7 linked regions of the Homo sapiens genome follow. The protein of the gene in region 5 purifies or fractionates together with the protein of the main gene of each other region. This does not show direct contact. Each region holds a gene or a part of one and is shown on either strand. Other genes may lie near its edges.

Evidence for each region.
Region 1: the proteins of CTCFL (region 5) and DDX55 purify together in Homo sapiens (affinity purification with mass spectrometry; one large-scale study listed by BioGRID and IntAct). This does not show direct contact.
Region 2: the proteins of CTCFL (region 5) and NOL6 purify together in Homo sapiens (affinity purification with mass spectrometry; one large-scale study listed by BioGRID and IntAct). This does not show direct contact.
Region 3: the proteins of CTCFL (region 5) and PHKG2 purify together in Homo sapiens (affinity purification with mass spectrometry; one large-scale study listed by BioGRID and IntAct). This does not show direct contact.
Region 4: the proteins of CTCFL (region 5) and RBM6 purify together in Homo sapiens (affinity purification with mass spectrometry; one large-scale study listed by BioGRID and IntAct). This does not show direct contact.
Region 6: the proteins of CTCFL (region 5) and ANKRD44 purify together in Homo sapiens (affinity purification with mass spectrometry; one large-scale study listed by BioGRID and IntAct). This does not show direct contact.
Region 7: the proteins of CTCFL (region 5) and PCYT1A purify together in Homo sapiens (affinity purification with mass spectrometry; one large-scale study listed by BioGRID and IntAct). This does not show direct contact.

What each region holds. Positions count from the first base shown.
Region 1 is NC_000012.12:123,611,803-123,615,617, reverse strand, and holds part of DDX55 (ATP-dependent RNA helicase DDX55), read right to left. Parts: intron 2,498-3,815; exon of another isoform or gene 2,449-2,497; coding exon 2,366-2,448; coding exon of another isoform or gene 2,312-2,365; exon of another isoform or gene 1,653-2,311; intron 434-1,652; coding exon 302-433; intron 1-301. UniProt on the Homo sapiens protein: Probable ATP-binding RNA helicase. Has ATPase activity and is involved in the maturation of precursor large subunit rRNAs.
Region 2 is NC_000009.12:33,460,723-33,464,109, forward strand, and holds the end of NOL6 (nucleolar protein 6), read right to left. Parts: coding exon 3,315-3,387; intron 3,199-3,314; coding exon 3,109-3,198; intron 2,720-3,108; coding exon 2,525-2,719; intron 2,413-2,524; coding exon 2,311-2,412; intron 2,092-2,310; coding exon 1,942-2,091; 3' UTR 631-1,941; downstream 1-630. UniProt on the Homo sapiens protein: Part of the small subunit (SSU) processome, first precursor of the small eukaryotic ribosomal subunit.
Region 3 is NC_000016.10:30,751,396-30,755,210, reverse strand, and holds part of PHKG2 (phosphorylase b kinase gamma catalytic chain, liver/testis isoform), read right to left. Parts: intron 3,663-3,815; coding exon 3,608-3,662; intron 1,980-3,607; coding exon 1,914-1,979; intron 1,818-1,913; coding exon 1,654-1,817; intron 1-1,653. UniProt on the Homo sapiens protein: Catalytic subunit of the phosphorylase b kinase (PHK), which mediates the neural and hormonal regulation of glycogen breakdown (glycogenolysis) by phosphorylating and thereby activating glycogen phosphorylase. May regulate glycogeneolysis in the testis.
Region 4 is NC_000003.12:50,055,002-50,058,816, reverse strand, and holds part of RBM6 (RNA-binding protein 6), read right to left. Parts: intron 1,090-3,815; coding exon 814-1,089; intron 416-813; coding exon 255-415; intron 1-254. UniProt on the Homo sapiens protein: Specifically binds poly(G) RNA homopolymers in vitro.
Region 5 is NC_000020.11:57,522,201-57,526,690, forward strand, and holds the start of CTCFL (transcriptional repressor CTCFL), read right to left. Parts: upstream 2,941-4,490; 5' UTR 2,828-2,940; intron 2,498-2,827; exon of another isoform or gene 2,017-2,497; 5' UTR 2,006-2,016; coding exon 1,463-2,005; intron 1,079-1,462; coding exon 868-1,078; intron 1-867. UniProt on the Homo sapiens protein: Testis-specific DNA binding protein responsible for insulator function, nuclear architecture and transcriptional control, which probably acts by recruiting epigenetic chromatin modifiers.
Region 6 is NC_000002.12:197,307,976-197,312,486, forward strand, and holds the start of ANKRD44 (serine/threonine-protein phosphatase 6 regulatory ankyrin repeat subunit B), read right to left. Parts: upstream 2,806-4,511; 5' UTR 2,630-2,805; coding exon 2,603-2,629; intron 1-2,602. UniProt on the Homo sapiens protein: Putative regulatory subunit of protein phosphatase 6 (PP6) that may be involved in the recognition of phosphoprotein substrates.
Region 7 is NC_000003.12:196,235,526-196,239,340, forward strand, and holds part of PCYT1A (choline-phosphate cytidylyltransferase A), read right to left. Parts: intron 3,370-3,815; coding exon 3,163-3,369; 3' UTR 1-3,162. UniProt on the Homo sapiens protein: Catalyzes the key rate-limiting step in the CDP-choline pathway for phosphatidylcholine biosynthesis.

The sequences.
Region 1 (3,815 bases), on a different chromosome or scaffold from region 5:
GGGCACAGGGCAATCTGGGAGTGAAGACAATACACAGGACTCCTGTGTCACGGAGCCTGCTGTCTAGCACAGAAGTTCAGTAACTAGGGAAATGACATAGCAAAAGGCAAAGCAATTGGAACAGGGCAATGGAGGCTCGGGGTGTTTACAGAGATGTGATAACCAGATTAGAGAGGGAAGAGGGTTCCAGGCAGGAAAGACAACACATGCGGACAGCACAGGCTACTAGAGAATGGGGCATTTGGGGACCTGAAAGAGCAGTGTGGCAGGAGAGCTGCTACCTTCAATGAAGCCCACCCACCTTTGCAATTTGCGGAACTCCATGAAGATCTTATTGCGTTTATATTTCATCTTTCCGTGAATGCACATAATCTTCACGCCCTTCACCAGCACTTCCAGAGCCTTCCCATAGTATTCCACACAGGCACAGGTGCTGCAAGAGGGACAGAGGGCTTAGAGTCATTGGCCACTTTGGTCCTTCTACAACCGGGAGAGGGGAACAGTGAGCAATAGCTGCAGCAGACGCAACCTAACTACAAGCCCTCCCTAGGGGAATGACAAGGAAAATGGCAGTGGAAATCATCCACAACTGAGTTCTCAATCTGTAATCCTCTCAGCCAATGAAAGGCCAATCTTTTGACAAAATCCCTTAAACATGAATTAAAACCCCCAAGGACATATTTTACTGTCTAAAGATGTTCTCACGGGAAATCTCCCTGACCCCGAGAAAGGAATTAAAGTGAAACAGTCATTCAGAACAAAAGCAATGACATCTTAGCCACAAATAGTGTTACAAGATTTAAAAACATTTCTGCTTTCCGTTTAGGGAACTGCTTCTTTCCCAATTAGCAGGATTCCCAAGGGCTCAGCAAATAACCCAAGCTAGGCCAGTCAGATCCCTTCTCCCAGATATTTGGGACTTGGAGCTGAGTCATCCAAAGACAAAAAGGGGTTGGCAGTCATCCCAATAAAGATATGCCCTAAAGAGATGGCCCATGAACTCCTGCCAGGGAGCCTCCTTCCCTGGGAGCTGGACACTCAACATTCTCTGAATCTGTGAGCTCCTTACCCGGCACCCTTCTAATAAAGTTCACCCTGGACCCTTTTCCTTAACTGGAAGCATTCCCAAGTGACTTCCCATCCTTTTGCAGATGAGGGAACTAAAACTTACCAGAGACACAGAGTAAGTGGCAGAACCAGAACCCAGGTCTAATGCTCCTCCCACTAGACCAGACTACTGCACTACTGCATTCCAGTTTGGGCTAACTCTTGTCTACTTCAGTCCCTCCACCTGTGCTGTGACCGCTCTTTTCCACCTTGAGTCACATAGTATGTAATGAAGTGGTGTTTCACACACTAAGCCTCACAACCCACAGACCTGGTGGGTTCTGAAATCAATTTAGTGGGTCTCGACCAGCATTTTAAAAAAATTAACAGCTGGAGTAGAACAGAATAGAAAACATCCCACCTAGCAGGGTGCAGTTTCATGAAAACCTTTGTTTTATTGTCTTGTTTGGGTGTGTACCAAATTGTACTTCTTACTGTGGGTCATGGTCAATATTGCATTTTATTTGTAGGATAACAGATAGAAAAGAAATTATAAATATAAATATATAAATAAATATAAAATTATTTTTTATGTACTACTAAAGATCAACACATTTATCTCTGGAGAAAAGGGGAAAAGAACCAACCAGTCCAAAGAACATATGCATCTGTCCCTACGCTGCCTTCTGACCACAGGACAAAACCCCACTGTGGCGGACTCCATGGGTGGCTGATAAACACTATTCCCAACCACTTCTTGCTTCACTGGCCACTACTACAGAGGCAGAAAAGCTGCGCACTCATTTTCTCTGCTGCTCTTGAAGTGAGGGGCCACCACGTGACCCACTTTTGGCCCCTAAGATGAATTCACAGCTGAAGTCAACTAGGGCAGAGGGGTTTCTGAAGAAGCTCTTTGCTCTCCTGATTAAAAGGCATGGATATAGCTAACATTGCCCTAAGCCCCCTCTGCCTTTCCCCCCTTATCTTTCTTCAGTGGAGACATGACAGGGTGTAATAGTGGTCATCCAGAATCCATGAGGTGACACATAGGAAGAGAAGACCAATCACATCAACATTGACCTTGACATGACTGACACATGAAACCCATGTGAGAAACTGCCTGCCTTTGGACGACTTTTTACGGGAGAAAAATAAAGCCAACCTTGTTCGGACAACAAAAGTTGGGTTTTCAGTTATTTGCAGCCAAAAGCATTCCGGAGAGAACCATGCTAGATGGAATCCAAAACCCAAAGGCCGCATGCACCTGCACATTCTGGCTGAATCCCTGATGCCTCTACCACAGAGACCAGAGGAGTACCTGAAGAAGACCAGGTGTTTCTCCTGCTTATGATTGCGAAGAAAATGGACCAGCTGATTAAATTTCTCATCTGCCTTGCATACCTGCAAAATAAAAAGGGAAACTAATAAAAAACATATTTGGCAATAATAATCCCCATGGCTATTTTCAGTTTCAGCATTAAATTTTAAGGAATGTCATTTCCCCCATGGGTAGGACAGACTTTAGTCGGAATGTTAACTGGTCTACCTAGCTCAGAATAAATATCAACATGTGCTGCTGCCTGTAAAAGTTAATTTGTATGTCACAAAATCATATAGCTCAGAGAAACACAGTCATCCAACAGGCAACAGTTCCCAACTCCCAATCCCAATATACATGCCAGCCATTACACCATCTCCAGGGTAGATTTTTATTTATTTACCTTTTTTTTTCTTCTTTTTTTTTTTTCAAGAGACAGACTCTCAATATGTTGCCCAGACTGGTATCGAACTCCTGGCCTGGCATCCGGCGATCCTCCCACCTCAACTCTAAAGTGCTGGGATTACAGGCGTGAGCCACCTCGCCCAGCCAAAGGATAGATTTTTTTTTTTTAAATGCAGATTCTTGGGTACGACATACAGATTCTGATTCAGTAGGTCTGAGATTGAACCTAAGAATCCCTATTATTTAAGAGTTCCCCCAGGAAATTCTGATGCCAAGTTCAGAAGTCACTGCTCTAAGGTGAATACTGATTTCCAGAAAGCAATGTACATCATTATTTAAAAGGCCTCCATGGACGCAGACCCCACTGCTTTTCTTCATAATGCAATCAAGTCCTCCATTCAAACTCCCAAATTAGAGACATTAAATTCACCTGAATGCATTCATCCTATTTTTACCAAAACCAAATCCCCAGTTTGGAATTTTTTCTCATGTACTCAGCCATCTCTAAATGCAAAACGAATGCAAAATAACAGAATGCAACAGTAGCCACAGTGTGTCCAAAGCTAACAGTAGTACAAGTATCCCTCATCCAAGGTCCTTAGGACCCGAAGTGTTTTTTGGCTTTTGAATTTTTTCAGATTTTGGAATAGCTGCACTATACTTACCAGCTGAGCATCCCTAATCTGGAAATCCGAAATCCAAAATGCTCCGAGTATTTCCTCTCAGCATCATGTTGGCACTCAAAAAAGCTTCAGATTTTGGAGGATTTTGGATTTTGGAATTTCAAGTTAGGAATGCTCAACCCATACTTATTGTGTACTAAGCACTATCATGAACATTTTTGCATGGATTAATTAATTAATCCTGCAGCAACCCTACGAAGCTGTATACTACTGTGGCCCCCATTTGACAAGTAAGGACCTCTAAGTTCATCGGTTAAATCTGGTAGGGGCCAAAGCCAAGATATGCACCAGGCAGTCCTGCTCTAGCGCCCATGCTCTCCACACTACCCTATGCAGAGTCCTTCCCTCTGCTTGGGAAGAGC
Region 2 (3,387 bases), on a different chromosome or scaffold from region 5:
TTACATTTCACTCCTGGAAAATAAAGCCTGGCACGTTGATGCTTGAAGCTCAAGAATGAATAGCAGAGGGAGAGATGTGGACTCCAGCTCACACAGCCAGCCAATTTATTCCCTCCCTATTCTAATTTCAACCCTGGGCTGAGCTGCTCCATGGCAGTGACAGTAGAGGCAAGCAGTGATTCACAAAGACCAACAGTTGAGACAGAACTGGAGGCCAGAGTTCCCACATGCAGCTTCTCATCTTGAGGATGGAGCTTGCTAGCCAGGCATCAAAGTTCCTCACACAACGGGCCCCTGCGCTGAGCCTGTTCTCTCACTCAGAAAATGAAGGTAAATGAAAGTACCTACTCCATACGGCTCGTTATGACTGTACGACAAGTTTCCGCACATAAGATACGGATACCACCACCTAACCCCGCCTGGCACCTATTAAGCCCTCAATAAACGTCAACTCTATAATCTCTTAGGCTTTCTCTTTCACCGTCACCACCCACTTCTTGCAGGCAGATTTCACAAATGGATTCCCTTTACTCTGCAATCTTCCAGTGGGCTTCTCTGCCCCCCATCTGCCTGTGCTGGATGGCCCCTGAGCAAAGCACTGTAATAGGTGCTAGGAAGGACACGAAGAAGTCTATGTTCAAACATGTTCTTGCCCTCAAGGAGTTTACATACAAGAAACCAGGTTAAAATTATGTGAAAGGGGCAGACAGGCCAGGAATACGGGGGAAATTAAGCAATTTAACTTTTTATTTAAAAGAGATGGGGTCTCTCTGTTGCCCAGATTGGTCTAGAACTCCTGAGCTCAAGTGATTCTCCTGACTCCCTAAGTGTTGGGATTACAAGCATAAGCCACCACGCCCAGCTGCAATTTAATTTTAAATCAGAGTTCAAAACAATAGAATTTATGCCACTGTGTGTGCCTGCCAAACGAACTGAACAGACAGTAACTGCTCTAATAGTTCAGAGGAGGGAAAGATCACCTCAGGCTGGGGGCGAGGGATGGGCTTAAGGAGGGGCACTATTTGAGCTGAGTCTGGAAAAACAGCCAGAATTACAGGAAGCAGAGAGGCTACCAGAAAGTGGGTGTAGACCAGACTGAAAGGAGGCAGCATTCTCCTCCTTGGGCCCTGGGAGCTCCTGGGGAGTAAGACTTGAGTCTCCCCCATCTCTGCAACCCCACTGCAGGTACATAGTAGTGGCAGTTTGTGACATGAACGGGCAAACAGCCAGGGCAGATGCAGCTAACGGGTAGCCCCCAGTGCTTTTTGCACCTCTCCAAGATTGGGTGACTACCAGTCCCCTGACCCCTTCACCTACCCAATCCTTTCCTGTCCTCGGTTCTTTTCCACTGTCTCCACCCTGGGAAGTGGCATCAACACAGGAGGGCATTGTGCTCCTTCAATGTGGTCTATTCATACACATATAGCCCCTTTCCACTGCTCAGTGTCGGTGATGTGACTCAGAAGGGCCACATTTTCGCTGGGTCCCATCTAAAGGCCTGACACTGCAGTGAAGGGCATGCTAAGTCTAGGCACAGGTCCTGGCAGCAGGAAGGAGACAGAGCCTCTCCCAGGCACACATCCCCTTCTCTGTTTCTGGAAGAAGACTAAGAAAGGAGTGGGAAATCGCAGGGAGGTCCAGGCCCAGGGCTAATAGGTGGATGGATCTCCTGGGTTCAGTTCCTTCTCTGAGCTGGCTCCCACTCCTCTTCTGGGATGGTGAGGCCCAGGAGACTACATGGGCCACCATGCCCCTGCCCCAATGCTGGAGCATCAGAGAGAAAGTTGGGGCTGGGTTTTGTTGGAGATGATTCAGCATGTTCAGCCAGCAGGCCCTCCATGGAGGATTCATGTCCAAGGAGGGTGGAGGTCATCCTACTGACATCTTGCTCTAGAGGTCCAATGTCCTGCTGTCCGTCTACAGCTTGCTCCAGAGCTGGGATCACACAGTCCACCTCTCACTTCGGGCCTCCACAGTCTGCACCAGGCCTTCACCCAGCACAGCAAAGTCCTCCAGGATTGCTTCAACATTGGGCACCATTACTAGCTCCCCACCTCGAGACATCACCATGCGCCCCTTTGTGCTGGAGGCCTGGGGAAATCAGAGAAGAGATGTGGGTTGAGTGTCACAGCGGCACACCCAGAGACACCAAGCTGGGTACAGAGTGGGGGTGGTGGGGATAGAAACACAAGCCCATACACTCCGCACCTGACACGGGTTTGCCCATAGGACAGACTACACACAGACATGCATGCCCACACAGAACCACGTGCACACACTCAGGAACACAGCTGTCACCAGCCAGCACACCTTGAAGGGCTGCGGCTGGAAGCTGGTGGGCTTCCAGAGGACACCAATCACCTCTCCACCATGCTGGTCATAGAAGAAAAGGGCCAGATCCCCAAAGGCCTCCTAGAAAGGGACAGAACAGAGAAGATTATAGGCAGGCATTTAAGAGCTCCTCCACAGCCTCAGCTTCACCTGGAAGTCCCCTCCCCAGGTCATTCAGCTGTTTAGGACCAACCCTGAGCTGCGTCAGATAGAGCTGAGGAGGATCATAGCCCAGCACGGGCATCAGGGATGAGGGCCCCGGCTGGCTGAGCAGGCCCCGGCAGAAGGAGGCAGCTGGCGAGTCCACAGCCTGGCGGTGCCGCGGGATATGGCGAGGAGACAGGCGAATCAGCACGTCGTAAATGTCCAAGGGCGGCCGGAACACTGTCTAAGGAAGGGGAGAAGGAGGGGTCAGCAGGACCCCCTTGACTGAGGAACTGGACCACAAACCTCTCCACACGCCCACCTTGGTTTCCTCCTTCCATCTGACCACCCTCTATGGGCCCACCTGCCCATTTGAAGACTGAAGCACCAAGACCCACAGAGCAAACAGCTGTTGCATAGCCCGGCAGAAGGAGCACAGGCTAGAAACAGGAGACCCAGATGGAACCCAGGTTCCCCAGGCTCTGCCACCCCAGGCACCACAGCAGCTTCAACACCTCCTCTGTTCAGTCTCACCAAACAAGGGGACCGGGTCTCCTGTGAGATCCCTGAACGCTGAACTTCCAAAGACAGAATCCCCAGAGGCCCTGGAGTCACTGCTGGTCAGAAGCTTACCCTGATGTCCCCAGGTCCCCGGGGATCCATGAGCTGCTTCTCTAACATGGGCAGGGCTTCAGCTGCCAGGACCACAAGCTGCTGCAGGATCTGCGGGGTACAGACACATCAGACTGGAACTGAAGTGGGTCTCTCCCAGGTCAGGCTGGGCCTGCTTTTTCCTTGGGAAGAAAACCACACATTAGGGGGCAGGTATGGGGTTGAACCTGGGCTGAGGGTCCATCCTGTGTCCACACAGAGTTTTTGCGGTCTTGGGGGGTAACAATGACCATGACGGGG
Region 3 (3,815 bases), on a different chromosome or scaffold from region 5:
GAGTGTGGTGGCACTATCACAGCTCATTGTAGCCTTGGGCTCCTAGGCTCAAGTGAGCCTCCTCCTTCAGCCTCCCGAGTAGCTGGGGTGACAGATGCGTGCCACCACGCTTGGCTCAAGTCTGTATTTTTAGTTTGTTCTACCACTCGGGCACCAATTCTTCCAGTACTTTCTGAACCTTGTTCCATGGCACACTTCCAGGAGATTTTAACAGCCCCGAATTGAAACTGACTTTGTTGGGAAATTCATTCCTACACCAAGTATTTCTTGAATGCCAAGTTGCACTGATTTGCCAAGTGGCAAATGAGATGAGCCCTTACCGAGCTCACTGTCTACCTGAAGGCAAGTGAGAAATAACAATACAGTAAGACGTGTTGTGAATGAAGAAGATGGGAGAACAGAAAGCAAGGGGACCTAAGCTGCCCTGGAGGTTTAAAGTGAAGCCTGAATTACCCAAGCCAAGGAGAGGATGCAGTGGGCAGAGGCAAAGATGATTCCACAAACGGGAAAAGTACATGTGGAAGCCAAAGGGTTTTAAAGTACAACATCCACCAGACATGTGGGTCCACAGGTTAAGAGTATTAACTCTGGAGTCAGACTGTCCAAGTTCAAATCCTAGCATTAGGACCCTAGAGCAGTCATCTCACCTCTTTGAGCCAATCTATAAAAAAAGAGACACAAATACTGTCTGTCACACAGGGCTGTGGAGAGGATTTAGGGGAATAAGCCATATAAAGACTGGTGCCGACAAGGCACAGTGCTCACACCTGTAATCCCAGCACTTCTGGAGGCTGGGACAGGAGGATCACTTGAGGTCAGGAGTTCAAGACCAGCCTGGCCAACATTGTGAAATTCCATCTCTACTAAAAATACAAAAATGAGCCAGGCGTAGTGGTGGGCACCTGTAATCCCAACTACTTGGGAGGCTGAGGCAGAAGAATAGCTTGAACCCAGGAGGTGGAGATTTCGGTGAGTGAAGATCATGCCACTGCATCCCAGCCTGGGTGACAGAGTGAGACTCTGTCTCAAAAAAAAAAAAAGAAAAAAGAAAAAAAAAGACTGGTGCCTGCCTCACAGGTGAATGCCCAGTAAACGGTAGCTTTTCATAAGTCTAGTACAAACCATTGAGGGAGAGAGTCAGTGGCAGACTAAAGGCTCTGAAGAATCCCACAGGTGAATTTTATTTGAAGTTTCCCATTTGCAGTAGAAACATTCCTGTCACAACAACTGTATTCACATCAGGTGAACCTGAGGCCCAGGGCCCAGGTGGGAAGTGCAGTCTGGACACATCACATCAGGCTCTTGTGGTCCTGCACTCCAGACCCCAAACGTGGCTGAACATGTGGCTCCCTTTTTTACCTCCTCTATGGGGCTCAGGCTGAATTGGCGTTCCTTCCTCCGGGTTCCCCTGGCCTGGCCCTCTGCCCACTGTGCACCACTGTCTGTCTGCCTGCTTGTCTGTCTCCATCCTCCCAGGTCAGGATGCCCACTCTGAGGTAAACATAGGCTTTGCGCCCACAGGATACTTGGCAAGTGCCCAATGACTTCTCCCTTTTTCTTGGCACCAGGGACTTGGTACTCAGACCCAGCCAACCAATCTCATCAGGCCTGGGTCTCCCCTCCCAAGCCTATTAGGGCACTAGATCCCCTCACCTCGAAGCTTCTCGCCAGGTTCCAAGTGGCAGGAGAACCCGAAATCTGAAAGTCGGATCTGCATATTGTCATCTAGGAGAATATTCTCGGGCTTCAGATCTCGATGCACAATGTTGTTGGCATGGAGAAAGCTCACTGCTTCCAGCAGAGACCGCATGATGGACCTGGGGGAAGGGGAGGCGGGTGCAGTCTCCTCCTCGGCTCCTCCCTGCCCTGTCCCACCCCCTGCTCACCCCTGGGGCTTCAGGCTCAACCCTTACCTGGTTTCCTTTTCAGAGAGGGCCACCTTCTCTGTGAGATAGTCAAACAGCTCTCCCTTCCGCATCCTAAGGGAAGGAGGGGCATAGGAGGCAGCTGCATCCCACAGTGGGGGCTGAGAAAACAGACCAGTGCTCATACAAAATATTGTGGAAGAGGCCACTAAAGATAGATCTCTGCAGACAAACCAAAGGGTCTAGAAACACAGCACTCCAACAAGGCAGTTTGGCCTGGTGTGTTGGCAGCTGAAATACCTGCATTATGCCATGATGGGGCAATTATGGCAAAAATAAGAGACTTCTTGTGACAATATAATTTATAGGAGGTTCTTGTTGAGAGTAACTATGCCTGAAAAAGGCCTCTCAAAGTGAATCTATAAAGAAAATGGACCAAAATTTCAGTTTTTTGTGGCACAAAGGTTGAATAGGACCTTATTTTGAAGTTTCGTCTTTAAAAGCTGAGGTTATAATTATGTGTCAATTAAAAATAATACTTTCAAAATTGAGGTTATACTTGCACTCTGCATCAGTCCTCAAAGTAACATTATCAGGTGCTGTTTTGGGGAGTGTAGGCACTCTGCATGGCTGCAGGATGGCATAATAGACATCCTTACGTCCCCTCTGACTTTTGCAGAGGGCCATTTCTGTAAATATATCGAAGCCTTCATGAATTTTTTCCAAGGGCCTCTTTTAAATCTTTGGAATTCAAATCATTCTCTTTCAAAATACCTTTGCAGTTGGTTTGCATTATACCAATTGCATCGGACATTCAGATTCTGACCAGAAAAAGAACTGATGGGCAGAGACAGACACCAGAATAGTTAGCGTGTTAAGCAGCGCGAGAGGCTGGTGAGTGAGGATCTATTTTCTAAGTGGTCAGTCCACTGCTGAACACTCTCTTTTTTTTTGGAGATAGAGTCTCGCTCTGTCACCCAGGCTGGAGTGCAATGGCACGAACTCAGCTCACTGCAACCTCCGCCTCCCGGGTTCAAGCAATTCTCCTGCCTCCCGATTAGCTGGGATTACAGGCACCGACCACCATGCCTGGCCAATTTTTTGTATTTTAGTAGAGACGGGGTTTCGCCATGTTGTCCAGGCTGGTCTTGAAACTACTAACCTCAGGTGATCCACCTGCCTCAGCCTCCCAAAATGCTGGGATTACAGGCATGAGCTACCACGTCTGGCTGGTCACTATTACTTTATTTTTTGAGATGGAGTCTCACTCTGTCGCCCACGCTGGAGTGCAGTGGCGCAATCTGGGCTCACTGCAAGCTCCGCCTCCCGGGTTCATGCCATTCTCCTGCCTCAGCCTCCCGAGTAGCTGGGACTACAGGCGCCCACCACCACGCCCGGCTGATTTTTTGTATTTTTAGTAGAGATGGGGTTTCACTGTGTTAGCCAGGATGGTCTCGATCTCCTGACCTCATGATCCACCCGCCTCGGCCTCCCAAAGTGCTGGGATTACAGGCGTGAGCCACTGCACCCAGCCACTAGTCACTATTAAAGAATTTGCCTCAATCATGGCACCAAGGGAGAAGGCCAGAGCCATGCGCTAGCAGGCAGGCCCAGGTGATAGAGAGCCCCAGCTGGAACAGGAAGGTGTGAGCAGGATGGGTCCAGCCCACTGCACCACAAATGCTGGGCCATACATGGAGGTGGGGAGGAGGCTTCTCAGATGGTGGCAGGGAGATACTCACAGGTCAAACACCAGGAACATGAAGCTAGAAGACTCGTAGGAATCGATGAGGGTGACTAGGGAGAGAGGAAGAGAGGCAGAGAGACAGAGATGGAAAGGAGTGGATGCACATTAACGGGGCTTGGCCACCCTGGGACAGCAGCGGGCTGTTACTGGGAAGAAAGGAGAACCAGAGGAGGCAGTGGGCGCCCAACGGATGGCCACTCTTT
Region 4 (3,815 bases), on a different chromosome or scaffold from region 5:
AGCCTCCCGAGTAGCTGCGACTACAGGCGCCTGCCACCACGCCCAGCTAATTTTTCTGTATTTTTTAGTAGAGACAGGGTTTCACCGTGTTAGCCAGGATGGTCTTGATTTCCTGACCTCGTGATCCACCCACCTCGGCCTCCCAAAGTGCTGGGATTACAGGCGTAAGCCACCAGGCCCGGCCCCCAGTCAAACCTTCTTGAAGGTTCTTTAGCCATCTGTCTCTAGGCCAATCCAAGGTGGAGGAAACTCACCGCATGGGAGTCGAGGTCAATAAAGCCATAGGTATGCCCCATAGGGCCTGTTCTGTTCTTGATGATACGGACGTTGGCAGTAGTAAGGCGGACATAGGGCTCCAGCACTTCCACTATCACCTCAGGTGGTGTGGAACGATAGATACGCTTTAGCATGATAGCTGAATCAACCATAAATGGGAGAAGGGCAACACAAGGGAGAGAAAGATAAATTTTTGAAGTCCCAAGAATCTGACTGTCATTTTTTACTATAGATGCTACTAGCAAGGCTGGTTCTGTAAAAAAATGCTAAACAAATAAATACTGCATACTTTTCTTCACCAATACTTAGAAATCTAAAATCATGCCTTACTGCATTCATATAGCAATTTACTATTTGAAGGGCATAGATTCCTTTAAGCAGTACAGGAAGGTCCACAGACAGCAATGGCCTCTGTCATCAGGTCATGCACAGATCTCTCAGGGTACTGGAAAGCAGATAGCTCCCGGACATAACATTGGCCATCTATGCTCCATTGTGATGATCACAGTCTGGTATGTGCCCTGACAAACTACTTACTTTTGCTCTCTCCATCCTGGCGTGTCTCTCCAGACCATGACTCCCTCTCTCGGTCTCTTCGGAAAGTTGGCCCTTCCCTTCGAGAAGGAGGCAGATACCTTTCTGCTTCTCTCTTTTGATGTCCTAAGCGTGACTCTTGGCCTTCTTCCCTCTTCCTGGGTTCAGGTTCCTTATCAGCTGGTCTTAGGGGCTGGTTGGGCTGTTTTTCCAATGGTGCTGGTATGGATGTTTTCTGAGGCTGAGGGTAGGTTATTAATTCTTGCTTGGCCTCTGTCACTAGTGGAACAGAAACAAAGAGAATCTCTAGAAAGCTTTATCAAAAAAAAAAAAAAAGAAAAAACACTGCTACTGTAATTTCTCCTTACCTGCCAGCAAATACTCATACTGGAATGCCTTTTTTTTTTTTTTTTTTTTTTGAGACGGAGTTTTGCTCTTGTTGCCCAGCTGAAGTGCAATGGCATGATCTTGGCTCACTGCAACCTCTGCCTCCCGGGTTCAAGCGATTCTCCTGCCTCAGCCTTCAGAGTAGCTGGGATCACAGGTGCCCACCACCACGCCCAGGTAATTTTTTGTATTTTTAGTAGAAACGAGGTTTCACCATGTTGGCCAGGCTGGTCTCGAACTCCTGACCTCAGGTGATCCACTTGCCTCGGCCTCCCAGAGTGCTGGGATTACAGGTGTGAGCAAACACGCCCGGCCTGGAATGCTTTTAATATTATCTCAGAAATATCTAATAAAAAGTCCTCTGACAGTTCCTGACAAAATATTTTAAGTGAAGCTGAGACAGGACATGAAATAGTTCACAGAAGAAACTATCCAAGCATTTAAAAAATGTAATCTTATGAAATCTCTATATCACCTACTAAACATTTAAATATAACAAATCCTTCATGACACCTTGAACCTGACTATCATAATCAATGATAACAACACATCTGGGGACAAAATTACCGAAGATATGGCCCTTACTTAAGGTTTAGTAGAAACACATATCCCAAACACACATCTAGAAGCCTTGCTTCTTCCAGTGTTACAGTGCTCAAACAGCTACTCATATCCTGTAAGACCACAGGCCCTCCTCCAGTGAAGCTAGGAACAGACCCTATCTGCACGTAGCTCCTTTATATGCAAATAAACATAATGGGCAGACGTCCTTCAAAATATAAATGATTTATTTCAAATGTCCTACTACAGCAGGATAATTTGTCTTTATAGTTTGTTTTATAATTAGGGGCACATTCTTGTAACTAATTCATTCTTGGAGGGTTCACTGGAATCCATGTGGCTCAAAAAGAGGTATTATATGAGAGCAATATAGAGATTACATAATAGCAGTGACAGGTTTCCAGATTAAAGCTGTCTCATCTTAGTGGTATGGTGCCCAGTGGTTTTCATACACTATCTATTCATGGCCGGGAGCGGTGGCTCACGCCTGTAATCCCAGCACATTGGGAGACTGAGGCGGGCAGATCACGAGGTCAGGAGATCGAGACCATCCTGGCTAACACAGTGAAACCCTGTCTCTACTGAAAATACAAAAAATTAGCTGGGCACGGTGGCGGGTGCCTGTAATCCCAGCTACTTGGGAGGCTGAGGCAGGAGAATGGCGTGAACCTGGGAGGCAGAGCTTGCAGTGAGCCGAGATTGCGCCACTGCACTTCAGCCTGGGTGACAGAGCAAGACTCCGTCTCAAAAAAAAAAAGAAAAAAAACAAAAAACTATCTATTCATTTGCTGGAATAGCTTTGAAAAAAAGTGTTTCTTGTGGGGGGAAAAAAACACAACTTTGCCTAACCTGAAGTGACCTAACAAGCAAAAATCTCAGTTGTTCATCCTCCTTCCCACATTTTGGTTTGGTTTCTAGAACATACACAGCCTTCCCCTAAAGATTTTCAGAACACCTGCCTTTCAGTCTTCACCAGAGTAAAATCTCCACAAGAGGACAAAAGCCCACCTAAGAAACTCCTTGTAGGCACATTAAACTCTAACCTTGCAACAAACAGAAGGCTACCTGAATCCCTGCACTGAACTATATTTTATGGTCATGCTGTGGCTTTCCTTAAGGGATGACTACAGGACTGTTGTTATGGATGCATGTGTCTGACTCTTCGAAGTTGCCTACCTGAAATTTCTCTAAAGAAATTTACATTAAAGATAAGTGCTTGAGAAGCTGGTAGTTTTATTCCTCTAAAATAATAAAATGTTCCCCACATCCTGATTATTTTCTCCTATTTATGTTTTTACTGTTATTTTAACAAATGTTTTTCTCTTGAAAATCCTGAAATGCTTACAGAATGTAAAAGAGAAAACAATAGAGCAAATGATTCCCAATAACTTCAAAGAAGTAGGAGTGGGAGAAAGGTTTGCCACACAGACTGATGTCATAAAGACTCTTTTTCAACCTAACATCCTTAATCCTTAAATGTATTCCAAATAACAATATACTGACCTCTGCTCAGCTGCCCACTTAGCCACTTTAGCCTAGGAGCCCACAACCCTATCTCTTTCCTCTGGTGAAAATAAGATCTGAAATCATTTACTAACAGGTTACGTTAAGTTGGGCACCAAACTGCAATTTTTTTTTTCTCACTCTGTTGCCTAGGCTGGAGTGCAGTGGCGAGATCTCAGCTCACTGCAACCTCTGACTCCTGGGTTCAAGCGATTCTAGTGTCTCAGCCTCCCAAGGAGCTGGGATTCCAAGCATGTGCCACCACACCTGTGGCTAATTTTTGTAATTTTAGTAGAGACAGGGTTTCGGCATGTTGGTCAGGCTGGTCTTGAACTCCTGACCACAGGTGATCCACCTGCCTTGGCCTCCCAAAGTGCTGGGATTACAAGCGTTAGCCACCATGCCTAGCTCAAATTGCACTTTTGAAAGGTTTGGGCCGGTCGTGGTGGTTCACGCCTGTAATCGCAGCACTTTGGGAGGCTGAGGCAGACAGATCACGAGGTCAGGAGATCGAGACCATCCTGGCTAACACGGTGAAACTCCGTCTCTACTAA
Region 5 (4,490 bases):
TGGCAGTGTTTGGTTGGCATTCTCCTTTTCTAAACTGAGTCACCTTCCAATCCCAGGCACCTGATGCCAGGAGGAAGGAAAACTGTGCCAAGTGTTGCCAGATATAATTTAAAAGAGCTAGAAATTGAAATTTTGGGGGTGAAATATGTTGATTTAAATAAGTGAGAAACTAATATTTTTAAAAAATAAGCCAAACAAATTATTTTCATAGGACAAATTCATCCTGTGGGCTGCTGGAATGAAATCTCAGTTTAATATGGCTTTAATATTGCTTCAGGGTCTTCCTAATCTGGACCCATCCACCTCTCTGAGCACCCACCCAGCTCTACAGACACAGTAGAGCTCTCCACCCTCAGATACAAAGTAAATACTTCCAGAGCTACACGCCCAGACCACTTCCTAGTACTTGGAATCCTGATCCCCATCTTAGTGGCTTCTTTGTCCTGGACTCACCTAAATATCACCTCCCTTAGAAGGCACCCTCTACGGCTTCCTGAAGGAGGAATCACTCCTTCTCTTGGCCCTGAAGCACACGAGGCCTCACCACCTGTCCTGTAATGACTTGTCCCCCATATCCCTCTGGGGCTGCAAACTAGGCAGCAGAGACCAGGGCTTGGTCTTCTATGCTTACGTGCACAAGGCTTTGTGGGAACATTTTTACTGTGCTTTCAAAACGTTTGTGTGTAAAGTGCAAAACCCTTCTGGATTTGATTCACAATACAGAACATTAGTTTAAAATTTCTCCCATTTCCTGACATTTTGAAAGTAAAAGTCAACCACTTAAAACTTCAATTACCATCACCTGCCCATAAAGAAAAACAGCAGCCCAGTTTTAGGGAGTGTATTCTATGAGATGAACTGGCCTACCCTTTGTCTTTCTTTGATTTTTTGTAGATTTGGCCTTTTCAGCATCTGCTTGACCAGCTGTAGGTTGATCCTCTTGTTCTTCCACATTTGAATTTGAAACTGTGAGAACAATTTCGTCACTTCTTTCATCTCCTGACATTGTTTCCACAAAAAAGAGCTGCTCCTTTGTTCTTTCAGCCAATAACTGGTTCTTCTCCTGCTCTTCCTCGAGCTAATAAACAACAAATATTCAAATATGATACTATTGATTTCAGTATAATTAGACTTTTGCCTGGATGAAGCACAGAATACAAAAAGAAAAGCCAAAGTGGAAGATTATGCATCACAATGTTAATTATTTCGCATCAGGGTTGTGGCAGTGAAACTTAACACTTTTTTTTAAAACATAATGCGCCTTACACTATTCCAATTAGCACCACTTTTAAAACTCTTTTTTAAAAAAGAACCTAAGAACTCTCAAGATTTTCCTGGGAAGTATTTGTACTGTCTTTAATTTGCAACTGCAAAATACCTTGTCCAGACATAATATTGCATAAAAGCCGACTTGAATTTTTTCTTTTTCATGTAAGGGGTTGTTTATTAAAACCAGCTGTACCTTGATCAGTCCAGTAGTTTCAGCCAGGCTCACCGCTAACTTACTGTCTTCACTGGCCACCATCACATTCTCCTCTAGAGCGTGGAACTGCAACACCTCCATCTCTTGCGGGGAGTACAGCTCTTGCTGGATACTAATGGCCACACACTGCTGCAGGCTCTGCCGGGGCCCTTCCTCAAGCCACAGCAACCCAGGGCCAGGCTGTTGCACCACCACCTGCACCCCTTCTTGCTGCTGTATGCTCAGCAAGCTCATATCCTGCAACTCCACAGCTTCAGAAGTGAAGTGCACCGTCTGCAGGGTCAGGATGTACTTCTCGCTCTCCTCCGAGGGGGCCAGCACCAGCTCCACTTCTTCCTCCAGGACGCTGTCCTGGAAGGCCCCAGAGGTACGCTCGGCCTCCAACTCACTAGGGCTCCGATGGTCTTTCTCTCTGCACACTCCGTCTTTTTCCTCCTCCTTCAGGCCTTTTTCCGGCATCAACTCGAGTTCTTTGATCTTGGTGAATTGCTCAGAAAGGACAGAGATCTCAGTGGCTGCCATAATGACTTGGCCTGTTTGAAAAATAAGCAAGCGGTTTCCATAGGGGGGAGAAGGGGGTGGTATGAGGAGGGATGCGGGGGGTGCTGGAACCTAGCAGGCTTTGGAGTTGAAACAAGGTCTGGCCTCAAAAGGTTTTGGACTTAGTAGGGTCAGAACAATGCTGATCTGGCTTGGGTCTAGGAGGGGGTCAAGGCTAAGCAGGATTTAGGCTAAAGCAGGATTTTGTACAAAACCCTAGAACGAACAGGTTTGGGCCTCAGCAGGCTTAGGGCCAGCACACATCCTGCGCCTGGCAAGGTTCCGCCTGAGCACACTCTGGCCCAGTGCATATCCTGGGCCTAGCAAGGTTAGGCCTGAGCCGGTTCAGTCAGTGAACATCCTGGGCCTAGTAAGGTTTGGGCCCAGCAGGCTCTCGGCCAGTGCATATCCTGGGCCTAGCAAGTTTCAGGTCCAAGCAGGCCCCGGGCCAGTGCACACCCGGCGCCCAGCGAGGTTCGGGCCCGAGCAGGCATTCCCCTCGTGCACGGTTCTAGACCTAGCACCCTCAGAGCCAGGCAGGCTTTGGGCCTAGTGGCCTCGAGCCCACCCAGACTTGGCCAAGCAGCCCTCGGCCAGACCAAGCACACTCCCTCGGAGGCCTGGCAGGGCCCCTGCTTTACCCTGCCCCCCACGCCCCGCCCCGACCCGACCCTCCCAGGCAGCCCCTCAGCGTCTGCCGCCCGCCCTTGGGCCTTTCCGGCCAGCCCCTCCCTCCGCCCACGCCCAGAACAGCCCATGCTCTTGGAGGAGAGCAGGTGGGCTTGACCGGGACTGGCCCCTCACCGCGGAAGGCGTGGCCGGAATGCTCGGCCCACTCCGTCTTTGGCTTGTGGGCTCTGCCTCGTGCACCGCGTGCTGCAGCCCACAGCCGGCCGCCGCCGGGCTGGCGCGAGAGTGGAGGGTGGCAGTGCGCAGGCGCGGAGCGGAAAAGAGGGGGCGTGAAGGGGGCGGAGCCAGGCAGGGTTGGGGGAGGGGGTGATGTACTGTGGGGGCAGGGGGGAAGGGGAGTAGGGAGGGGGAGGGGGAGCACGGATGAGGAGGACCCCAGAGGGGGCACTGGTGGACCTGGGGGGGTGGATGAGGAGGGGAGGAGGGTCCCATACAGGGCACTGGGAGACCTGGGGTGGGGGTGGATAAGGAGAGGAGGAGAGCCTGCAGGGCACTGGAAGACTGGGTAGTGGGGGAGCGCCTAAGGAGGGGAGGAGGGTCCTGCAGGGGCACGGAAATACCTTGGGGTTGAAGTGGATGAGGAAGGGAGGAGGGCCCCGCAGGGGGCGCTGGGAGACCCGGGGGGGAAGTAAGGAGGGCACGAGGGCCTGCAGGGGGCCTGGGAGATCTGAGGGGGAATGGATAAGGAGGGGAGGAGGGCCCACAGGAGGCACTGAGATACTGGGGGGAGGGGTGGAATGAGGGGGGGAGGGGTGGAATGAGGCGGGGAGGATAGCCCTGCAGGGGGGCTGGGAGACCTGAGGGGGGTGGTGGGTAATGGATAAGGAGGGGAGGGGGGCCTGCAGGGGGCCTGTGACACCTAGGGGAGGGGAATGGATAAGGAGGGTAGGAGGGCCAACAGGAGGCACTGAGATACCAGGGGGAGGGGTGGAATGAGGAGGGGAGAGCCCTGCAGGGGGGCGGGGAGACCTGAGGTGAGGGTAATGGATAAGGAGGGGAGGAGGGTCTGCAGGGGTTCTTGGGAGACCTGGGGGATGAATAGGAGAGGACAAGGGGAGGAGGGTCTGCAGGGGGCCCTGGGAGCCCTGCGGGGGGCGAGGGGTGGGGGAATGGATAAGGAGGGGAGGAGGGCCTGCAAGGGGTGCTGGGAGACTTGGGGGAGGGGAATGGATAAGGAGGGGAGGAGGGCCTGCAAGGGGTGCTGGGAGACCTGGGGGAGGGGAATGGATAAGGAGAGGAGGAGGGCCCGCAGGAGGCACTGAGAGACTGGGGGGAGGGGTGGAATGAGGAGGGGAGGAGAGCCCTGCAGGGGGCGCTGGGATACCTTGTGGGGGAATGGATAAGGAGGGGAGGGGGTCCTGCAGGGGGCGCTGGGAGACCTAGGGGAGGGGAATGGATAAGGGTGGGAGGAGGGCCCGCAGGAGGCACTGAGATACTGGGGGGAGGGGTGGAATGAGGAGGGGAGGAGAGCCCTGTAGGGGGCGCTGGGAGACCTTGGGGGGAATGGATAAGGAGGGGAAGAGGGCCCTCAGGGGGCGCTGGGAGACCTGGGGGGGAAATGGATAAGGAGGGGAGGATGGCCGCAAGGGGCACTGGGAGACGCTGGCGGGGAATGGATAAGGAGTGGAGGGGGGCCTGCAAGGGGCGCTGGGAGACCTGGAGGGGAAAGGATAAGGAGGGAGGAGGGCCTGGAGAGGGCGCTGGGAGACTTGGGCGGGGGTGGAGGGAATGGATAAGGAGGGGAGAAGGGCCTGCAGGGGGCACTGAGACCTGGTGG
Region 6 (4,511 bases), on a different chromosome or scaffold from region 5:
CCTGGGCAACATGGCGAAACTCTGTGTCTACAAAAAATACAAAAATTAGCCAGGTGTGGTGGCACACGCGCCCATAGTCCCAGCTACTGGGGAGGCTGAAGTGGGAGGATGTTTGAGCCTGGCAGGCCAAGGCTGTAGTGAGCCATGATCATACTATCGAGTCAGAGTGAGACCCTGACACACACACACACACACACAAAAAAAAAAAAGGAGGGAGAAATTAAGAAGTGGTTGTTTTACTAGAAGCTGAATGGAGAGCAAGGTACTCCTGTACAAACTCTAAGGCAGGGATTCCAAGCAGGCGGGCGGCTCCCTGCCCACAATGATGGAGCAAAACTCTTCTAGTAGTGGTCTAAGCAAATGGTTTTAAAAGTTAATCTGTGAGGTTAAGAACTGACTTCTAAGAATTGAGTCTCAAACAGAAAAGGTAAGACTATATAAGGCAAGAAAGACCACACACTTACTTCCTGGACCTAAAGCTACACAGAAACCATCGTTGTTCACCACCCCACCCCACCCAGGCCACTTCCCCACCCCATCTCCTTCTGACTTTGTCCCAAGATAGACTGGACATTTTCAGAAGTTCTTGAATCTTAAAACGCCTTAGGTTCTTTTTACGTATCTGGAGATGGAACCAAATAAACGTTGTGTGACTCTTCCTTTCTCTCCATACTCATACTAGTTTATTGGGGGAAGGAAGGAAATATACTTGGAAACATCTTAAAAGGCAACATCTTTGAAATTCCTGCTCTGATAAGCCCTGAAGAATAACTTCCTCTCTTTGTAAGACCAAGTAATACACTTCTCACTAGGGTTGATCTTGATCTAGGAAGAGATGTTTTCTTGTAACCCTTACAACACATCCAATGAGATGATGGAGCTATCCTATACCAACTGTAGCAGAAAGTACAAGCACCTGGAAGGCAGAAGACAAGAGCTAGTCCCAGTCCTGCAGGCCTATAGCTGGCATTCTTTGAGGAAGACTTGCTTCACTTCTCCAGATCTGTTTTGTCATTTAGAAAATGAAGGGTTTGGGCTAGATCATCCTTAGAGTCCTTACAACTCTAAACTTCTATGTGATGTTCTTTCTTATATGTGATAACAATACCTATTAGAACCATTCTTTGTACTTTGAAGATCTAGGGATTAACAGACAAGTACAGCAACGTGTACTAGCAAAGATGACAGGCCCAAGACACGCTAAAACTGTAGGATTTAAAATACGCAAATGTCTAACAGTTGGCAAAGTATGTGACCAAAAGGTGAAGGAAATCCTGATATCAACTTACACTTTTAAATGCTCTGGAACCAATGAGAACAAATACATTCATCACAAGTACCAGCTGCTCTTCTTACTAAATTTAACAATAACATGAATTTTAACTCAGTGATTTCCCCATCACCAACCCCGCCAAACACCTGTAAATATTTAGGAAAAACAAGCTAAAAAAATTGAATCTAAAAGGCAGGAGAACAAATCATTGCAAATCATTGTGGTGACGGACTGCACTTCAGTTGCAAGATGTTCTGGCTGGATACTAACTGGAGAACGCAAGGCAGCAGATGCAACCCATGGACAAGTTTGAGGTATTTAATACCAAGGGCTGGCAAGTCTGACCCTGTAGTCAAAGTCAAGATTGCCTCTCTGCCTACCAGGACCCCAAAACAAAGTTCCTTTCACTACCCACGAATAAACGGGGGTGGGGGTAGCAAGCCGTTTCCTTTTTTCGTGGAAAGAGCTGCAAAGAGTTTTGTCATGCAACTTGGTTTGGTGCCTGTTAGTGTCAATGTAAGAGCAGCAGAGTCCGCGAAGGTGGCTGTTACCATTCCACAGACCTGCGGCGAGGACTGTCAATCCGATTCAGCAAATAACCCCACCTCTCCAAGCCAGGACTCCAGAGCTGCCCTGTGTGGTGTCTCAGCAAGGAAAGCCAACAAAGCTGGTAGACACAGGCAGACCGTAGCCCACCGCCTGTGAGTGGAGGCTCCGAGCCGACTTCACCTCCTCCTCAGAGGGACCGGCCCGATCCGAAAGGGCGGTCTCCAGGGGTCCCCATCCCGCACCACGCACACAGCCTGGCGCAACTAAAGAGGAAGTCGGATGTCACATCCAACGGATAAATAAAGACAGCCCGGCCACACAAGAGCCGCATTCTGGGCAGGACTCCTGCTAGGTTTGGGGAGGGGTCCCAGTCTGCGATCCTTTCTCCCTCTTCGTGCAGCGTCCTCCTCCCCGGGGCCCGGGCCGGCGGCGCCCACGCAACGCGGCGCGGTGCGAGTCCCGAGAGCACCTCGAGCCCCCGGCCCCCTCCCCAGCCCCGCCGGGCCCGCGGCCGCCGCACTCCCGCACGCCGGCTGCCCAGCGCCCACGGGCCCTGCCCCAGACTCGGGCGCGCAGTTCCGACGGCCCAGGGCGGGGACGGCGCGGCGGAGGGGAGCTGCCGCCGCGGGCTCTCGGAGGCACCGGCGGCCGCACACAGTCCTCCCCTTCGCCGCGAGTAAACAGCTCGCGGGCGCGCTCCAGCCGCGCCCCCATCCCCCCGCCGGGCTCCGCGCCGCCCCGCGCCCGCGCGTCCCGCCCGCCGGCGCCGCCGCCCGCTACCTGGTCGGTGAGTTTGAGCACTGCCATTCTTCCGCTCCTTCGCGCGCACACACATGCAGGTCCCCGGCCCGCAGATGTCACGCCGGGAGCCGGGGAAGCGGAAGGGATTGCCAGGAGAAGGGAAAAAATCTGGCTCCCGAATTTGACAGCCCTCCCCCTGCTCCTCCTCCGCCGCCGCCTCCTCCCGCCGAGAGGCTGACACTGGCTAGTGGGGTTTGCAGCCGAGCCCGCCCGCCTTTCCACAGGAAGTACCGGCTGCTGCCAGCCGGGCCGCCACTGACATCACCGCGCGCTGGCTCGCTCGCCGCCCGCCGCCTGGGCCGACGCTGCCTCCTGCCGCCCGCAGCCGAGCCGCGCAGCCCGGCCCCCGGCGCTGCCCCCGCGCCCGCACCGGGCCGCCGCCTGCCTTCCGCACCTGCACGCGGCGCCCGGCCGGGCCGGCCCCGGGCCCTGGGCGGATCGCGGGCCTCCCTGACGGGTCTCACACATATGGGTGGGGAAGCCCGCGGGGACACACCCCGAGGGGGCAGGAAAGGCTCTCACTCACATGCCGTCCACTTTAACCGGGGAGATGGGGTTACGCCCCCTTCCCCTAACCCAGAATCAGGTGGTGGCAGCGCCCCGAAGATCCCAGGGACCGCAATTATGATGCTCCCTTTGTTTAATGCCAGGAGGCAGCGGACACATTGTGATTCTTTACAGGGTGTTTGCCAAACATTTATGGGTGGAGGGAACAGAAGCTCTGGCCCTTCCACCTTGTTCTCCAGCCACTTTCCAGCTAAACACACACACACATATGCACACACACATACTATTGTTAAATTCAAACACCCTGGGTTTGGTTTTTGCTGGTGGGGGTGGAGTGGAGTTCCTGGAGAAGCAAAGCAGTCCTAAATCACCGAGTTGATGGGTCTTTTGGGTGTTCCCACCAGTCCTTACTGATCTCTACAAAATCCCAAGTTACCAAGCTCTTCAACAAATAGAAGACAGCTGTCAAACACCATGGGCTACAGATACAACGGGCATATTCGTAAGCATAGTAGCTGTTGATAGTTCTGGAATTTGGAGCAAACACTTATTCATTGAACAGCTATGTACTGAGTCCCTACCTTGTCAGGCACTGGCTAGGCACGGGAATAAACGGAGAGCATAAATAAGATAACCTGCTCTCAGAAGATGCCAACATAAACCGCATAGTCTCTGCTAATGAATGTAATTACAAACTGAGATAAGGGATCTCAAGGGAAAACATGCTTCTGAAGTGAACCCACAACAAAGGAATCAGACCAGACTGGTGGGTGAGGGCAGGCTTCCCTGAGAAAGTGACAGGAGTTGAGATCTGGAGAAGGGAGAATTAAGTAAGCAAGTGGAGAGGAAGTGCTCCCAGGCAGCCCCATGTGCCCCTGGCAGGCCATAGAGCAAACCTGTAGGGCAGCATTGAACAGCTTTGAAGAGCAAACTAGAGCTACAGAATTCTTTGGTCAAGACCAAACATCTGCCTCTACTGTATATTCACAAACCAAATGTCCATTCTTCCTCCCTACTCTTAGAACCTCCCCCAAAGATTCCACATGAGACAGGAGAGAAAGGAGCATTAATATCCTCACATTTACCATCCAGCCACTCTGGTTGTCGAAGCAGCTAAATCTCAAATTTACCTTTATTAGTCTTATAGATTATAATTCAGATCATGCAGACAAGAAGAACCAAGGAACTTTGTTCCTGGCTTCCACTCCTCTGTTATCAATGTTGCATGGAAACAAACAAACAAAAAATTCTAAGGCCTTTCTCAGACATACAACAGATTGTTTATGTTGCATCTATGAGTCAGTTCTTCACTGCTGTTATTGGTATGTCTATTTACTGAACACCCTGCATGGCTTTGTAAGTAAACTGAATAGGACCCTGC
Region 7 (3,815 bases), on a different chromosome or scaffold from region 5:
AGTCCTCTAAAGTGTCAACCTCCATTCTTCAGTGCTTCTGAATCTAGCATAAGACCAAGCTTTCCGTCCGGCCCACCGGAAGGCAGTGGCTGCGCCGGCACCTCCCCGGCTCTGGCCTTCTAATGTCTCACACACAGAGGCTCTGCTCTAAGGCCAACACTTCTGGCTCTCTCATCTTGGCCACATTTGGCCCACCCATGTTGACTGCTTTCTCGTGTGTGATTCAGGGAAACAGCTCCATAGCCTCAAACGTTAATATCTGAAGATTTAGATCCCAGGCATTGTGGTGGTGTGCACACCTCTAACCTCATTTAATTAGGCACAGATGACCACATTATGCAACTTCCCAACAGCTTTCTCCATCTACCCGTGCTAGTCCAGCACCTCAGACCACATTTACCCCAAAGTATCTAACAGGCCACACTATAAAAGATTTTAGCTTTCAGTCAGACAAATAGCTTTCAGTCAAAACGATTAGACTGAGGTGGTAGAAGCTCACCAAAAGGGGAAAGGGAGTTTCCCAATAACATGTACGTTTGCTGGCCCTAGCAGTCTCAGAGGCCTGTCAGCCTGCAGGTCCCGTTCCAAGCACAGGGCATGCCAAGAGCAGCCCACTGAGAGCAGAGGAAGAGGGCTCAAACATTTGGGACCCAGACAATATATTTAGGAGGTATGGCTCCAATAGGGAGGGAGGAGGAAAACCACGTTCCGGGCATCTCCCTGTCTATCCAAATACACTTGCATAATGTGCACTTGGAGGAACCAAGCAGATGGGCTTCAGCACAGACTTCACTGCCACACCACACCAGGGAGAATAAGTTAGACAGAAACAGGCAGCATTCCCAAAGAGAGAAGGCTGACGCAGAAAAGTTCAAAGATGAGACTATGTAACACTGGGTAACACAGGAAAACACTAACTTCAGCTGTTTCAAAGACAGACAGGATTCCAAGCCAAAGCTTGTATGACCAGATTTAAGAGTAAGAACTGCGCTTCAAAGAAGAGTTAGAAATGTCGTTGTCATAGGCGATCAGGATAACAAGAGGCTTCATTCTCCCTCGCCTCTGTGACGCTCTTTCTGGGTGATCCAAGTTTTGTTTTTTTTCTAGTTGATTATTTCTCTTTATTTCTGTATGTGTGTGTGGTTTTTGTTTTGTTTTGGAGACAGAGTCTCGCTCTGTCACCCAGGCTGGACTGCAGCGGCACCATCTCTGCTCACTGCAACCTCCGCCTCCTGGGTTCAAGGGATTCTCCTGCCTCAGCCTCCCAAGTAGCTGGGATTACAGGTGCCCACCACCACGCCTGGCTAATTTTTGTATTTTTAGTAGAGATGGGGTTTCACCACGTTGGTCAGGCTGGTCTCAAACTCGTGGCCTCAAGTGATCCACCAGCCTCAGTCTCCCAAAGTGCTGAGATGACAGGCGTGAGCCACCACGCCTTGCCTGGGTGATCCAAGTTTTAAGAACCAAGGTAGTCCTGCTGTGCAGGCAATGATTCTAGCCTCTGACCCTCAGGCGGAAAACTAGGTGTTACCAGAAAGTGTTTAGGGAGTGGACTATGAGATGCTCACAGTCCTAGCAGAGGCAAGGAAAGAGAAAATGTGGTTTTCTTAGCTGAAAACACTAAAATTCCACCCCCACAAGGGGTATTTATGAGTGACAGGGGTGGGGCCTGGACATAAGCAATTTTCCCCTGGATCTAGCCACAGGATTACTGATGGGTGATGATCTGCTAGGCCGCGTAGCTAAGCAGCTAAGGAGACAGGAGGCCAGGGCTTTAAAAGTTAGAGCATGCTCAACAGCAAGTGCTAAGCATTAGCATTCTTTGATTTGAAAGTCAAGTGTTGAATCCCCCCGGGCAAGCCAACAAGGCAGATGGAACCACAACCACCAGGCGTGTGTGAAAAGTGGGGAGAAAACCTACCACACTCTTGTCACGTGAGGGTATGCTCTGTGGCTTGCTGGAGGAGCAGCAGAGGGAGGTCCCTGCCAGCTGCAGCTCTCAGAGGAAAAGAAAGATGTGGAGCACTGGTTCCAGGGAAGAATGTTCTGAAGAGGGACAGAGGTCAAGGTGATAAGGCTGTTGCTTTAGAAAGGAAGGTGTTTCCTATGCTTTTGCCTTTACATTCTGTGCAAATCTCTCTAATATGGCTATGACCAAAATGGATTAACATCAAGTTCCAACAGCAGACATTTACAAAGTATCCTTTGTAAAAGGCTAGGTAATATTAATAGCATTCAAATAGGAGTAGCAGGGCCAGGCACTTACTCCCAGTAGGAAACTAATCTCAATCGACTTGGTATAGGATTGAGTATTGTCCCGCTCCTCTCCTCATCATTGTAACTCTAAAAGTGTTCCTTCCTTCGAAGGTAGATGGCACGAAAGAGACTGACAAAAGCTCCCAAAGAACTGGGTCACAGAGTTTTCTGAGAAGATGAACACAGCAGAAACACTGCAGTTGATGCCATGGGTCTGCTTCCATCCCCATCAGTGTCTTCATGGACCCCATTGGGTCCAACAAGAAACTCCTCAGGGAGTAAGAAAAGTTAGGTTCAGATCTCCTTCCCGCAGCCACAATGACACTGGTGACAGCAGTACGTTCAGGGGATTTGTGACTGTAACTCTGCTTTTCGCTTTTCCTTAAGGAAATCAAAATTAAGATATTTCTCCACAAATTACCCATCAGCGTGGCTCATTTCGTGAAGGACTTGGCAAGCCACATAGCTTCAGAACGGAAGGCAAATGCTATAGTATACCGGGAAGAAAAGGCCTCTGCGTATTACACTACCTCCTTCTTCTGCCCACTCCTCAGGGGCAAAAAATTAGTTCTACATTTGAAAGACGAATTTTTTAAAAAATTAATGAAAATGACAATTTCCCTGTTGAGATCACGTGAACATAAACAGTGAAACAAAGCCCTTGGGGGGGGGTAAATGGATGCAGAGCAGGCTTCTAAGGTGCAGTCCCCCTCCTTCGTGTGGGTGAGTGATGTCACTTGCAGGACAGGCTGTTTGGGTTCCCCCAGTCCTAGGTCTTCTTTCCCCAGTTGTCTTTCCTTTGTAGCTGTCCTTAGGTTTAGTGTTGGGGTCACAATTTGGAATTCAACAGAGAGCTTCTGAAGGTAATGGGACAGAAAGGGAGGACAGGAAAGGAGGGAGGAAACATTAGTCTTCTTCATCCTCACTGATATCATAGGCTGCAGCCTTGTGCCTGGAGAGATTTGCTGGGGAGCAAGGTGGGGAAGTCTTGCCGGAGAAGGGCCATCGGAAAGAGGGGGAGGGGGAGCGCTCGCGAGTAGGGCTGCTGCTGGGGCTCTGCTTCGGGCTGATGGCCTGCAGCATCCGGCCCTTCCCCTCTTTCAGCATATGTTTCTGCAGAAACCGAAAGGAAGAGTCAGAAAAACACCGTGGATCCTACTTAATCATCACTGAAGCATCTAGGACTGGGATAGTCTATGCTGTACTATTTATTTAAGGGTTCTCCCCTGCTGTCATCACCCGGGAAATTCCCCATTCTTCCTCAATAATCTAGTCTAGGATTATTCTAATTTATCCAAACACCTTCACAGACAGATCCTTCCTGATATCTAACCTAGGACTCACTTGCTCAATCTTTTATTTGGTTGAAAAGACTGCTACTCCTCAAAGACAGAATTCCCACCTTACCTGGGGTTCCTGCTGCAGCTACTTGTAGTGGAGGCTGCTTTCTTTTTATTGTTCTTTATTCTTTCCTTTCCTTCTATCTAAAATCATACCACAGATAAAAGCTGGGCAAGGCGACTTGCTTATCTTGTCACCAGACTTTAAGGTTGAGAGAG